Regions from separate parts of the Homo sapiens genome. Here region 2 is linked to region 1. The links come from fine-mapping of genetic effects on gene expression. Tissue or cell type: pancreas. Region 1 holds a variant in brackets; the other region holds the start of a gene. All regions are shown on one strand. Distances are from middle to middle.

Region 1 (7,459 bases):
TGCCACATTTTCTTAATCCAGTCTATCATTGTTGGACATTTGGGTTGGTTCCAAGTCTTTGCTATTTTGAATAGTGCCACAATAAACATATGTGTGCATGTGTCTTTATAGCAGCATGATTTATAGTCCTTTGGGTATATACCCAGTAATGGGATGGCTGGGTCAAATGATATTTCTAGTTCTAGATCCCTGAGGAATCGCCACACTGACTTGCACAATGGTTGAACTAGTTCACAGTCCCACCAACAGTGTAAAAGTGTTCCTATTTCTCCACATCCTCTCCAGCACCTGTTGTTTCCTGACTTTTTAATGATTGCCATTCTAACTGGTGTGAGATGGTATCTCATTGTGGTTTTGATTTGCATTTCTCTGATGGCCAGTGATGATGAGCATTTTTTCATGTGTCTTTTGGCTGCATAAATGTCTTCTTTTGAGAAGTGTCTGTTCATGTCCTTCACCCACTTTTTGATGGAGTTGTTTTTTTTTTTTCTTGTAAATTTGTTTGAGTTCATTGTAGATTCTGGATATTAGCCCTTTGTCAGATGAGTAGGTTGCGAAAATTTTCTCCCATTTTGTAGGTTGCCTGTTCACTCTGATGGTAGTTTCTTTCACTGTGCAGAAGCTCTTTAGTTTAATTAGATCCCATTTGTCAATTTTTGCTTTTGTTGCCATTGCTTTTGGTGTTTTAGACATGAAGTCCTTGCCCATGCCTATGTCCTGAATGGTAATGCCTAGGTTTTCTTCTAGGGTTTTTATGGTTTTAGGTCTAACATTTAAGTCTTGAATCCATCTTGAATTAATTTTTGTTTAAGGTATAAGGAAGGGATCCAGTTTCAGCTTTCTACATATGGCTAGCCAGTTTTCCCAGCACCATTTATTAAACAGGAAATCCTTTCCCCATTGCTTGTTTTTCTCAGGTTTGTCAAAGATCAGATAGTTGTAGATATGCAGCGTTATTTCTGAGGGCTCTGTTCTGTTCCATTGATCTATATCTCTGTTTTGGTACCAGTACCATGCTGTTTTGGTTACTGTAGCCTTGTAGTGTAGTTTGAAGTCAGGTAGCGTGATGCCTCCAGCTTTGTTCTTTTGGCTTAGGATTGACTTGGCAATGCGGGCTCTTTTTTGGTTCCATATGAACTTTAAAGTAGTTTTTTCCAATTCTGTGAAGAAAGTCATTGGTAGCTTGATGGGGATGGCATTGAATCTGTAAATTACCTTGGGCAGTATGGCCATTTTCACGATATTGATTCTTCCTACCCATGAGCATGGAATGTTCTTCCATTTGTTTGTATCCTCTTTTATTTCATTGAGCAGTGGTTTGTAGTTCTCCTTGAAGAGGTCCTTCACGTCCCTTGTAAGTTGGATTCCTAGGTATTTTATTCTCTTTGAAGCAATTGTGAATGGGAGTTCACTCATGATTTGGCTCTCTGTTTGTCTGTTATTGGTGTATAAGAATGCTTGTGATTTTTGTACATTGATTTTGTATCCTGAGACTTTGCTGAAGTTGCTTATCAGCTTAAGGAGATTTTGGGCTGAGACAATGGGGTTTTCTAGATATACAATCATGTCATCTGCAAACAGGGACAATTTGACTTCCTCTTTTCCTAATTGAATACCCTTTATTTCCTTCTCCTGCCTAATTGCCCTGGCCAGAACTTCCAACACTATGTTGAATAGGAGTGGTGAGAGAGGGCATCCCTGTCTTGTGCCAGTTTTCAAAGGGAATGCTCCCAGTTTTTGCCCATTCAGTATGATATTGGCTGTGGGTTTGTCATAGATAGCTCTTATTATTTTGAGATACGTCCCATCAATACCTAATTTATTGAGAGTTTTTAGCATGAAGGTGTTGAATTTTGTCAAAGGCCTTTTTTGCATCTATTGAGATAATCATGTGGTTTTTGTCTTTGGTTCTGTTTATATGCTGGATTACATTTATTGATTTGCATATATTGAACCAGCCTTGCATCCCAGGGATGAAGCCCACTTGATCATGGTGGATAAGCTTTTTGATGTGGTGCTGGATTCGGTTTGTCAGTATTTTATTGAGGATTTTTGTATCAATGTTCATCAAGGATATTGGTCTAAAATTCTCTTTTTTGGTTGTGTCTCTGCCAGGCTTTGGTATCAGGATGATGCTGGCCTCATAAAATGAGTTAGGGAGGATTCCCTCTTTTTCTATTGATTGGAATAGTTTCAGGAGGAATGGTACCAGTTCCTCCTTGTACCTCTGGTAGAATTCGGCTGTGAATCCATCTGGTCCTGGACTCTTTTTGGTTGGTAAGCTATTGATTATTGCCACAATTTCAGAGCCTGTTATTAGTCTATTCAGAGATTCAGCTTCTTCCTGGTTTAGTCTTGGGAGGGTGTATGTGTCGAGGAATTTATCCATTTCTTCTAGATTTTCTAGTTTATTTGCGTAGAGGTGTTTAGTATTCTCTGATGGTAGTTTGTATTTCTGTGGGATCGGTGGTGATATCCCCTTTATCATTTTTTATTGTGTCTATTTGATTCTTCTCTCTTTTTTTCTTCATTAGTCTTGCTAGCGGTCTATCAATTTTGTTGATCCTTTCAAAAAACCAGCTCCTGGATTCATTGATTTTTGGAAGGGTTTTTTGTGTCTCTGTTTCCTTCAGTTCTGCTCTGATTTTAGTTATTTCTTGCCTTCTGCTAGCTTTTGAATGTGTTTGCTCTTGCTTTTCTAGTTCTTTTAATTGTGATGTTAGGGTGTCAATTTTGGATCTTTCCTGCTTTCTCTTGTGGGCATTTAGTACTATAAATTTCCCTCTACACACTGCTTTGAATGTGTCCCAGAGATTCTGGTATGTTGTGTCTTTGTTCTCATTGGTTTCAAAGAACATCTTTATTTCTGCCTTCATTTCGTTATGTACCCAGTAGTCATTCAGGAGCAGGTTGTTCAGTTTCCATGTAGTTGAGCGGTTTTGAGTGAGTTTCTTAATCCTGAGTTCTAGTTTGATTGCACTGTGGTCTGAGAGACAGTTTGTTATAATTTCTGATCTTTTACATTTGCTGAGGAGAGCTTTACTTCCAACTATGTGGTGAATTTTGGAATAGGTGTGGTGTGGTGCTGAAAAAAAATGTATATTCTGTTGATTTGGGGTGGAGAGTTCTGTAGGTGTCTATTAGGTCCGCTTGGTGCAGAGCTCAGTTCAAATCCTGGGTTTCCTTGTTAACTTTCTCTCTCATTGATCTGTCTAATGTTGACAGTGGGGTGTTAAAATCTCCCATTATTAATGTGTGGGAGTCTAAGTCTCTTTGTAGGTCACTCAGGACTTGCTTTATGAATCTGGGTGCTCCTGTATTGGGTGCATATATATTTAGGATAGCTCTTCTTTTTGAATTGATCCCTTTACCATTATGTAATGGCCTTCTTTGTCTCTTTTGATCTTTGTTGGTTTAACGTCTGTTTTATCAGAGACTAGGATTGCAACCCCTGCCTTTTTTTGTTTTCCATTTGCTTGGTAGATCTTCCTCCATCCTTTTATTTTGAGCCTATGTGTGTCTCTGCATGTGAGATGGGTTTCCTGAATACAGCACACTGATGGGTCTTGACTCTTTATCCA[A/G]TTTGCCAGTCTGTGTCTTTTAATTGGAGCATTTAGTCCATTTACATTTAAAGTTAATATTGTTATGTGTGAATTTGATCCTGTCATTATGATGTTAGCTGGTGATTTTGCTCGTTAGTTGATGGAGTTTCTTCCTAGCCTTGATGGTCTTTACAATTTGGCATAATTTTGCGGCGGCTGGTACCGGTTGTTCCTTTCCATGTTTAGTGCTTCCTTCAGGAGCTCTTGTAGGGCAGGCCTAGTGGTGACAAAATCTCTCAGCATTTGCTTGTCTGTAAAGTATTTTATTTCTCCTTCACTTATGAAGCTTAGTTTGGCTGGATATGAAATTCTGGGTTGAAAATTTGTTTCTTTAATATGGTTGAATATTGGCCCCCACTCTCTTCTGGCTTGTAGAGTTTCTGCCGAGAGATCCGCTGTTAGTCTGATGGGCTTCCCTTTGAGGGTAACCCAACCTTTCTCTCTGGCTGCCCTTAAAATTTTTTCCTTCATTTCAACTTTGGTGAATCTGACAATTATGTGTCTTGGAGTTGCTCTTCTCGAGGGGTATCTTTGTAGCGTTCTCTGTATTTCCTGAATCTGAATGTTGGCCTGCCTTTCTAGATTGGGGAAGTTCTCCTGGATAATATCCTGCAGAGTGTTTTCCAACTTGTTTCCATTCTCCCCGTCACTTTCAGGTACACCAATCAGACGTAGATTTGGTCTTTTCACATAGTCCCATATTTCTTGGAGGCTTTGTTCGTTTCTTTTTATTCTTTTTTCTCTAAACTTCCCTTCTCACTTCATTTCATTCATTTCATCTTCCATCACTGATACCCTTTCTTCCAGTTGATCGCATCGGCTCCTGAGGCTTCTGCATTCTTCACGTAGTTCTCGAGCCTTGGCTTTCAGCTCCATCAGCTCCTTTAAGCACTTCTCTGTATTGGTTATTCTAGTTATACATTCATCTAAATTTTTTTCAAAGTTTTTAACTTCTTTGCCTTTGGTTTGAATTTCCTCTTATAGCTCGGAGTAGTTTGATCGTCTGAAGCCTTCTTCTCTCAACTCGTCAAACTCATTCTCTGTCCAGCTTTGTTCTGTTGCTGGTGAGGAACTGCTTTCCTTTGGAGGAGGAGAGGCGCTCTGCTTTTTAGAGTTTCCAGTTTTTCTGCTCTGTTTTTTCCCCATCTTTGTGGTTTTATCTACTTTTGGTCTTTGATGATGGTAATGTACAGATGGGTTTTTGGTGTGGATGTCCTTTCTGTTTGTTAGCTTTCCTTCTAACAGACAGGACCCTCAGCTGCAGGTCTGTTGGAGTTTGCAAGAGGTCCACTCTGGACCCTGCTTGCCTGGGTATCAGCAGCAGTGGCTGCAGAACAGCAGATTTTCGTGAACCGCGAATGCTGCTGTCTGATCGTTCCTCTGGAATTTTTGTCTCAGAGGAGTACCCAGCCGTGTGAGGTGTCAGTCTGCCCCTACTAGGGGGTGCCTCCCAGTTAGGCTGCTCGGGGGTCAGGGGTCAGGGACCGACTTGAGGAGGCAGTCTGCCCGTTCTCAGATCTCAAACTGCATGCTGGGAGAACCACTGCTCTCTTCAAAGCTCTCAGACAGGGACATTTAAGTCTGCAGAGGTTACTGCTGTCTTTTTGTTTGTCTGTGCCCTGCCCCCAGAGGTGGAGCCTACAGAGGCAGGCAGGCTTCCTTGAGCTGTGGTGGGCTCCACCCAGTTCGAGCTTCCCGGCTGCTTTGTTTACCTAGCGAGCCTGGGCAATGGCGGGCGCCCCTCCCCCAGCCTCGCTGCTGCCTTGCAGTTTGATCTCAGACTGCTGTGCTAGCAGTCAGCGAGACTCCGTGGGCGTAGGACCCTCCAAGCCAGGTGCGGGATATAATCTCCTGGTGCACTGTTTGTTAAGCCCATCGGAAAAGCGCAGTATTAGTGTGGGAGTGACCCGATTTTCCAGGTGCTGTTTGTCACCCCTTTCTTTGACTAGGAAAGGGAACTCCCTGACCCCTTGCACTTCTGGAGTGAGGCAATGCCTCGCCCTGCTTCGGCTCACACACGGTGCGCTGCACCCACTGTCCTGCGCCCACTGTCTGGCACTCCTTAGTGAGATGAACCCAGTACCTCAGATGGAAATGCAGAAATCACCCGTCTTCTGCGTCACTCACGCTGGGAGCTGTAGATGGGAGCTGTTCCTATTCGGCCATCTTGGCTGCCAGTCCTAGAATGTATTTTTAAGCTTTTGAATTTGTTGCTAATTTGATGGGTGAAAAAATTGACTTTTATTGTAATTTTAATTTGCATTTCTCTTTTATATGAATGAAATTACATATGTTTTTACATAATTAACAAGCATTTTTATATCTCCTTTGAGTTGTTTATTCAAATCTTTGCCCATTTGTTTGTTTTTTTGTTTGTTTTCAGACAGGGTTTCACTCTGTTGCCCAGGCTGTAGTACAGTGGCATGATCTTGGCTCACTGCAACCTTCTCCTTCCAGGCTCAAGTGATCCTCCCACTTTAGCCTTCCAAGGAGCTGGGACTACAGACACATGCCACTGTGCCCAGGCACATGCCACCATGCCCAGCTAATTTTTGTATTTTTTTTTCATAGACATGGGGTTTCTCCATGTTGCGTAGGCTGGTGTCGAACTCTTGAGCTCACATGATCTGCCTGCTTCTGCCTCCCAAAGTACTGGGATTACAGACATGAGTGACCATGCCCAGCCTCCCTGCCCATTTTTCTATAGGATTTCTATAGGTTGATTTTCCTCAATTTAAAAAAAAAAAATCCTTGATTTATTAAGAATGTAACTATTTATCTGCGATATATGCTGTGAATGTTTTTCCCAATTTTGTCAGTTACCTTTGATTTTGTTAATGAGTTTTCTTTGGCTATGCACATTTTCCAACGTATCATCTTATTTTGTTTTTAATTGCATCTAGGATTTTAGTCATAGTTAGGAACCCTTTCCTTACAGATGGGTTTTAGAGGAATTCACTGATTATTTCTTTTGGTGCATATATAGATTTACTTTTTATATTTATATCTCTGATCCATTTGGAGTTTATTCTTGGGTGTAGTGGAAGGAATGAATCTACTTTTACCTTTTTTCAAATGGCTATCCGGTATTCCCTACACCAACCATCCTCAACCTTTTTGGCACTAGGGACCAGGTTCATGGAAGACAGATTTTCCACAGAATGGGGGGGTGGGGTGAAGGGGACGGTTTTGGCATGAAACTGTTCCACCTCAGACCATCAGGCATCACTTAGATTCTCATAAGGAGCACACAACCTAGATCCCTCCCATGCACAGTTTACAGTAGGTTTCCTGCTCCTGTGATAATCTAATGCTGCTGCTGACCTGAGAGGAGACGGAGCTGTCAGGTGATAATGCTGGCTTGCCCTCCGCTCATCTCCTGCTTTGTGACTCCCAGTTCCTAACAGGCTATGGACTGGTACCAGTCCATGGCCCAGGGCTTTGGGATCCCTCCCCGCCCTACACTGTGTATTAACCAGAGCATCTTTGACCCAATGATTTGAGATACCAGTTTTATCATATACTAGATGTTTATATGTAATTGGATCTAATTCTAGAAATTATATTTTATTCCATTGATTTGATAGCTTATTCTTGTGCCAGTACCATACTGTTTAATGAAAGAGGTTTGTAGCATGTTTTTATACCTTGGAGTAGTTCTACCCTGCCTCCTTTCCCACCTTTCACAGATCTTTATATTCATTAATTTCCTAGCTATTCTTGTGTTTATTTTTATTATTTTTTGAGACGGAGTCTCACTCTGTCGCCCAGATTGAAGTGCAGTGGTATGGTCTCGGTGCACTGCAGCCTCTGCCTCCCGGGTTCAAGTGATTTTCCTGCCCCAGCCTCCTAAGTAG
Region 2 (7,459 bases), 200 kb before region 1:
ATTGAAAACAGAAATCTTAAGCAGCCACTCAAATTTTAAAAGGAAAAAAAGGCCGGGCGCGGTGGCTCACGCCTGTAATCCCAGCACTTTGGGAGGCCGAGGCGGGCGGATCACGAGGTCAGGAGATCGAGACCATCCCGGCTAAAACGGTGAAACCCCGTCTCTACTAAAAATACAAAAAATTAGCCGGGCGTAGTGGCGGGCGCCTGTAGTCCCAGCTACTTGGGAGGCTGAGGCAGGAGAATGGCGTGAACCCGGGAGGCGGAGCTTGCAGTGGGCCGAGATCCCGCCACTGCACTCCAGCCTGGGCGACAGAGCGAGACTCCGTCTCAAAAAAAAAAAAAAAAAAAAAAAAAGGAAAAAAAGTTGTCTTCTTGTTTCCAGAATTGCCTGGTGAATCCACAGAGTACTTGGCATCCTCTGTTGTTTTCACAGCCCTACATTTCTGGTGACAATATTCTGGAGTGGGAAAAAAATTAAATGATTCAAAACTCAAATAATTGTTTCTCCCTCAAGGACCTAAAATTTGAGGTGATAAAAATGCCATTTTAAAACAATAGCTTTAAAAGGTGGTTGGGTTTTAGAAGTTAGGCAAAAGCAGCAGGCAGTTAAAATAACGGGGTATTGTGCAGCAGACATCTTACAGAGGTCAGAAATCAGGATGCGTGTTTGGGATGTGGGCATCAGATATGTTGGGTTGTGGGAATCACAGTTGAGATTGGATATCAAAAGTATTGAGACATGGAAATGGAAGTTACGACTATGGGAATCAGGAACTTTGGGACACAGGAGTGAAAATGGGACACAGGGGGAGGGTATTAACGATTTTAAGGTTTAAAGGAGTTCAGTTGTGGAAATGCAGATTTATGGACAGTGGATGAGCTATGAAAACCAAGGGTGAAGCATGGAAGATGCAAACAGGCTTATAATAATAAAGTATCTTATGTTGGATTAGACCTCCCACTGAAAACTATTATAAAGATAGGACACGTGTGTGTATGACAATTCTATCACATATATTAAATATATATAAAACTATGAGTAAATATGAATTATCAGCAATCATGCATGCACACACCCACACACACACGACAGATAAGTATCTTTAACAACTAAAGGCAATAGAAAAGGCAGAACTTAAGTGGCCACAAATCTTGAAAGAAGGAAAGCACAAGGGGTAAGATTCCAATTTACCTTAGATTCCCCATCTGCTCCTCCCTGTCATCACCCCAAGGCATTTTCCAAGTGGCAGCAAGGAATAACAGCTAAATAGAAAGCAGCAGTCTCAATAGGCTAGGAGCAAAGGCTGGAGTTTCGGAACAAGAGCAACTGAGATTTGAAGGACAAAATTCTAGAAAGAAAGAAACTATAGAGATGTGAGTCCCCAAATTTGTGTCCGTTCCTAAGATATACATGCACATGAAGAGACTCTAAGAAATCCAGCAGAACAACAGCACCTAAAGAGCTCAACAAAGATTTCAGCAGCTACACAGGGCTGAAGAGACAGAGACTAGAGTTCAAGCCCCACAAGGTGGAAGGATCTTGGTAAACATTCCAGGCTTTTGTTTTTTTGAGACAGATTCTTGCTCTGTTGCCTGGCCTGGAGTGCAGTGGTGCAATCACGGCCCACTGCAGCCTATAGCTTCTGGGCCCAAGGGGTCTTCCCACCTCAGCCTCCCGAGTAGCTGGAACTACAGGCACATGCTACTACACCAAGCTAATTTTTTGTATTTCTTGTAGAGATGGGCTTTCACCATGTTGCCCAGGCTGGTCTCAAACTCCTGGATTCAAGCGATCCACCCTCTCTGGCTTTCCAACGTGCTGGGATTATAGTCATGAGCCATCATGCCCAGCCACATTCTAGGCTTTTAGTTGTAAGACCTAGTAAGGACCATGGCCTAGGAGTAAGGTCATAACTGAAGTTAACCAGAATTAAAAAGACTCAATGATCCACTAGTACTCTTGTCTGCCTACCACAAGAAAACTTAGCCCTCCTTGGAGAAACCTGTTATCATCCAGAGCCTCTACAAATTTTCTTCTACATGGTTTGAATTCAACAAGAAATCATGAGATATGTAAAAAAAAAAAAAAAAAAAAAAAAAAAAAAAAGAAAGAAAAAAAAGGGCCAAGGGCCAAGCACCAAAAACCCAGGAAGACTCAGATGATTCAGAAATTGGAGTTAACAGATAAGGGCTTTAAATAATACAGTTAAAATGTTTAAGAAAATAAAGACAAAGAATTTCATCAAAGCCTTGGAATCTATTTTTAAAATGGGAGAGGAGGAGGAACCATGAAAATTTCAACTTTCTAAATGAAAATTCTAGAACTGAAAATATTATAACTAAAACTAAGAATTCAATAGAGGGGATGTATAGCAGCTCAGACACAGCAGAACAGAGTTTCTATGGAATGGACAGCAGGCAAATAAAAAATACAGAATAGAAATAAGGAATATAGCAAAAACTTATAACATACATGTAACTGGAGTTCCAGAATGGAGAGGTAGAGAGAGAGAAGGGGACAGATGCAATATTTAAAGAACTAGTGACCAAGATTTTTCAAAACTTGATAAAAAAGATTACATTCACACTTAAAGAGCTTTATGAATCCCAAGCAGGATAAATACAACACACACACACACACACACTTAGCGACATCAAGCACAAAGTGCTGAAGACAAAAAGAAAAAATAAAAAAAGAGAAAAATGTTCAAGTACCTGAGGAGGGGGCCAAAAGACAGGAGCAACAATTAGACTGATGGCTGATTTCTCAATAGAAACAATGACAAGCAGAAGACAATGAGAAGACATTTTTAAAATGCTGAAAGATTAAAAAAAAAGCCAATGTGAAATTCTATACCCAGCAAAACTATCCTTTAAAAAATGAAGGTGAATTAAGATGATTTTATGTTAACAAAAGCTGAGAGACTTTGTTGTTAGCAGACCTGAATACAAGAAGTGCTTAAGGGAGTTTCCCTCTTAAATACTACAGCACAGTGCTCCCAAATGGAAATGCTGAACTTGAAGAAAAAACGGAGAACATCAGAAAGCAGCAACTTTGACCCAATTCTGCTCCAATAAATTCTCATTGCAGTGGAATCATTTGTTGTAAAATATAAGTTCATATTAAACAAAATGCAGACAAAGAATGAGGTAAAGCTTGAATTTTACAACTTAACAGCATGTAGACATGGGCGGTTTAATTTTAACCAAAATCAAGTTAAAAACATTGTTAAGCAACAATGGAATTTGGGCCCTGGGAGTCAGGGGTCAAGGGCAACAGCTGGCATGTGGGAGTCAAAGGTTATGGCTGTGTGTGTCTGTGGTTCCTGGCTGTTAGGAGACAAGAAAATCTGTGGAGATGCAGGTGTCGGGAGCCATGGGCGATAGTTGTATTTTGAGGGTCAGGGGTCAAGAGAGCCTTTGGAAGACTTATGAGTCAGGGTCCACGGCTGACGGGTGGGTCGTGGTAGTTGTGTCAAAGGGCAGAGGTTGGAGGTCATGACCCACCAACACACGCCGGTTGAAACTTGAGCGCAAGGGACGGTTGAGATTCCCGGAGGACACGCCCCTATCGGCCCCGCCCCGTGCACCGCCTCCGTCGCCCCGCCCCGTCCCTCCCAGCCCCGCCCCGTCCCTCCCAGCCCCGCCCCTCCAGCGCTTCGAATGCGGACGCGAAGCCTGGCTGAGGCTGCGAAGGACGAGCGGCGCAGGGACCCCGCGGGCGTCTGGGGCTTCCGCGGCGCCCGCCTCTGCTCCCTCCCCTCGGGCGCTGGGTGCCGACCGGCCGGCTGGCCGGCGCCGCCTCCTGGGAAGATGGCGCTGCACTTCCAGGTCAGTGTGCTCTGCGCCGCGGGCCCGCGCTCCGCCACGCTGGGAACCCGGCGGGACGCGTCTGGAGACCGAGGGCCGAGGACAGCGGCGGAGGCCGCAGGGCCGTGGGCCGGTGTCCCCGGAGTCCCAGCCCCTGCCTCTGCCCCTAGCCGGGGACCGGGACACTGGTCTGGGCTGCACACCCCAGGCCCGGGCCGGAGCCCGAGAAAGGGGCGGCCGAGCCTGGGTTGGAGGCGGCGGGTGGAGGGGGCGGGGGACAGGCCCAGGGCTCGTCCCGGGGAAGGTGCGGACGCCGGCAGCACGCTCGCTGACCGCGGCTTTAGTGTTGCCAGGGCAGGTGGGAGTCCCAGCTGGGCCGGCTTTGGCGCGCCTCGCGCGGCTGCCGAGCGGTGGAGCAGCCTTCCCGCCTTCCCGCCGCGTCGCCGGCGCGGCTCTATCGTCAGCCTCCCTCCACACAGTTGAGCCCCAGCCGGAGCGGGGGCTTGGGATCCACCGAAGGAGCGGCGGCAGCGGTTGGACTTTAATTGGCCAGAGGAGACAGGGGCTGCGTCTGGGGGGAGTTGCGAGGGAGGGCTACGCGGCCGCCTCTTCGGAGGAGGAAACCCGGGCCGGGCGCGGGCGCGGGCGCGGACGCGAGGATCGCAGAGGCTACGAAGATGGGACGCGTGCTTGTATATCCTCGGGCTGCTCTGACATCCCCGTTCAGTTATTCAGCAAACATTTATTATCTCCCCACTGTGTCTCAAGCATTGTGGAAAGTTCTGGGGATAAAGGATGACATCTTACTATCCTCGCCCTCATACAGTTAACAGAGAATTACAGTACAAGTGAAAAATGTATGGTAGAAATAGTCACAGTATCATAGCACAGAAAAGGGGGTAGCCAGCCAAATGTGTATGTTGAGAAGGAGTGAAGCAGAGCTGCTATGCTCTTAGCTGAGAGATGCTTTAAGATTCTTTGAGCCTCCATTCTTCCATTTATTAATTATTGAGCGCCTACTATGCTAGGCGCTGAAGATACAACAGCTCTGAACAAAACTATGGTTTCTACTCTCAGGGAACTTGCAGTCTACTGGTCCTTGAAAGAGTCGTAGTTGTTTGCCAGGTGAAGAGGAAGGGAAGGATATGGAGGTAGAAGGACGTGTGAGCCAAGGCAAAGAATTGTGGAAGAACATGGTGTACTGCAGAAAGTTGAGTCTGGTTGGGACAAAGGGATGGGATCAGGGGAGGCAGTGGGTGGCAGGAGATGACCCCAGGGAGGGAAGGGAATTTCATAATATGGTGACAGTGTATCTAAGAATCTCATTCCCCTTGTAGACTCTTTTGAACCCCCTGTGATCACACTGATTTATAACTTGGCTGATTTATTGATTCTTCTAAAGGGTCTTTTTTTTAAAACCAGTTACTGTCTGATAATCGACAGTTCTAGAATGTTATGTAGTAAGCCCGACACATTACCTTTTGACTTCATGCCATTTCTAAGGGTCCTCAGGTCAAAATAATGTATTACCACTTTAGTAAATATGCCCTCTGGGAAATTTTCACAGGAAGAATCTTACAAGGAGGATTTATGGATTGTAAATAGGTAATCAGATGTTCACAGAGCCCGAGTAAATCTTGAGAGTAAATTAAAAGGTATGGTGGAACTTTGGAATTTTTTCATACATGGAAAGGTGATGTACAGTTAAATCACCAAGCCCTGGAAGACTTCTTCATATTTAGGCACAGTGTTGGAAAAGTTAGCTGCTGATGTCAAAACTACCCATATTGGTTTTGCAGGAATGTACTTCACAGTACATTCCAACATAAGTACTTCACAGTACATTCCTGTAGACAGCTTAAAAGCGGAGTTGGACAAATAAAAGATCAGACAGTTTTGTTGACTAGAAAAAAACTGAAATTTCTCCGTTTGAATTCTTTTTAGCATATAGGATCATATTGTTAATCAGTTAACTCAAGGAACATTTGTTAATAGTGATAACCAGTACCTAGCATTTTGAGTTTTCATATCCTCATTATAGAGGTGAGCCCTGCCACTAACTTAAAAAGTGTGCATATATACGTTTCATTCTGAAGACACTGAGTCTTAAAACAGTTGTGACTTGCCCAACGTTACAGAGTTAGAGTAGGCCTCATAACTCATAAGTTCCGTGTTCCCCATTACCTCTGTCTTACTGTCACCTACCCAAAAGGGCAGCTAGGCAAAAATTATACCATCAAGATGATGAGTAAAGAAGCAGATTTGTGTAGGGTGAGGTTAGGGTAGTGGTCAACATCTTTTTCACATCATGACATACATAAAAAATGTTAATTGTGTGTCTCATTAACATAAACCGCTCATTGCCAAAGGCCATCAGTGTGCACTTTCCCCAATGTCTCAAGCTCTGCTCCTAATGCTTGGAGGGCAGAGGGATCAATATCTCAGGCATACCTGTGAATCATTCAAAGCAGTTGCATTCTGGTTAGGAAGCTGTGAATTACGATACCCTGTCCCAAAGGAATTAATGGGTCTGGATTCCCTGACAGGCAATCCAGATAAGGGGGCAGAGTGAGGAAAAAGAATTGAGAAGAAGTAAGAGGTAGGCACTTTAGGTAGAACAGAGGTACCTTGGTAAGAATCGAGAGAATGTTAGGAAAAATTTAAGGGACTCAGTTGATCCAACTTTTTTGCTCAGGACTGTTTAAGAAGCAGGAAATATAGCCATGCTTCTTAATCTCCAGTCAAGCTACCTGATTTGATCTAGATGTGATTGAGAACTATTATTTTTAAATGCAATTATAACATGAGAAAAGGTATGTGGGAATGACCATTCTGGCAGTGTGGACTTGAATGGGAGAAACTATGGAAGATCCGTATGGTCTTTTATATTCACCAGTAACTGGAGAGATTATTTATGATTTATTGTGGATCTTCTGTATGGCAGGCACTGGATTAGGCTTTCCCCATCTTTTCTATCTTCATTCTACAATTAGTTTGGAAGGTAGATATTGCTGTTTGCAGGTTTGTTGTTGTTGTTGTTGTCGTTTGTTTTTTGAGACAGAATCTTGCTCGCCCAGGCTGGAGTGCAGTGGTGGAATCTCGGCTAACTGCAGCCTCTGCCTCCCGGGTTCCAGTGATTCTCTTGCCTCAGCCTCCTGGGTAGCTGGGATTACAGTTGCAAGCCACCATGCCCTGCTAATTTTTGTATTTTTAGTAGAGACAGGGTTTCTCCATGTTGGCCAGGCTGACCTCGAATTCCTGACCTCAGGTGATCCGCCCACTTCGGCCTCCCAAAGTGCTAGGATTACAGGAGTGAGCCACCGCGCCCGGCCCTGTTTGCAGTTTTAACAGCAAGGCTTAGAAAGGTTAAATTATTTGCCCGAGGTCACTTAATAAGTGAGTGGCAGATTCCAAAGGTTGTGTCCACTCTGTTGGACCAGTGGTTTTCAAATCGAACCATGACATTTCTAAGACCCCACTACTCTCTACTCGCATTCCCAGAGCAGCTTGAGAAATCCCTGGCCCTGGCAGCCACAGTTAGAAAATATTGCTTGATCTACTGTCTGTGAATATCAGGGGGAGGTGTTGAGTTGAGTCTTTATAGAAGAATAATTGGGAGGACTTTATGACAAATTAGGTATGTCCCT

Which allele goes with the higher level. Alleles are on the strand shown, and positions count from the first base shown. SD is a standard deviation of normalised expression in the study named.
In carriers of allele A in region 1, the expression in pancreas of the gene that starts at base 3,800 in region 2 tends to be lower than with G alone (large effect, 1.0 SD a copy in GTEx).

Evidence for each region. PIP is the estimated chance that this variant, and not a neighbour inherited with it, causes the effect.
Region 2: it holds the start of RANBP17, and the variant in region 1 is fine-mapped to the expression of RANBP17 in pancreas (GTEx, PIP above 0.99).

What each region holds. Positions count from the first base shown.
Region 1 is chr5:171,058,533-171,065,991 of GRCh38, forward strand. The region is part of intron 14 of RANBP17 (RAN binding protein 17); the gene reads left to right. Among named protein-coding and RNA genes, the nearest start is that of RANBP17, 200 kb to the left of the region's middle. The variant A/G (reference allele first, on the strand shown) is at 3,582.
Region 2 is chr5:170,858,219-170,865,677 of GRCh38, forward strand. It overlaps RANBP17 (RAN binding protein 17), which reads left to right and starts at 3,800. Exons shown (of 28, transcript NM_022897.5): 1 at 3,800-3,833. The coding sequence starts at 3,816.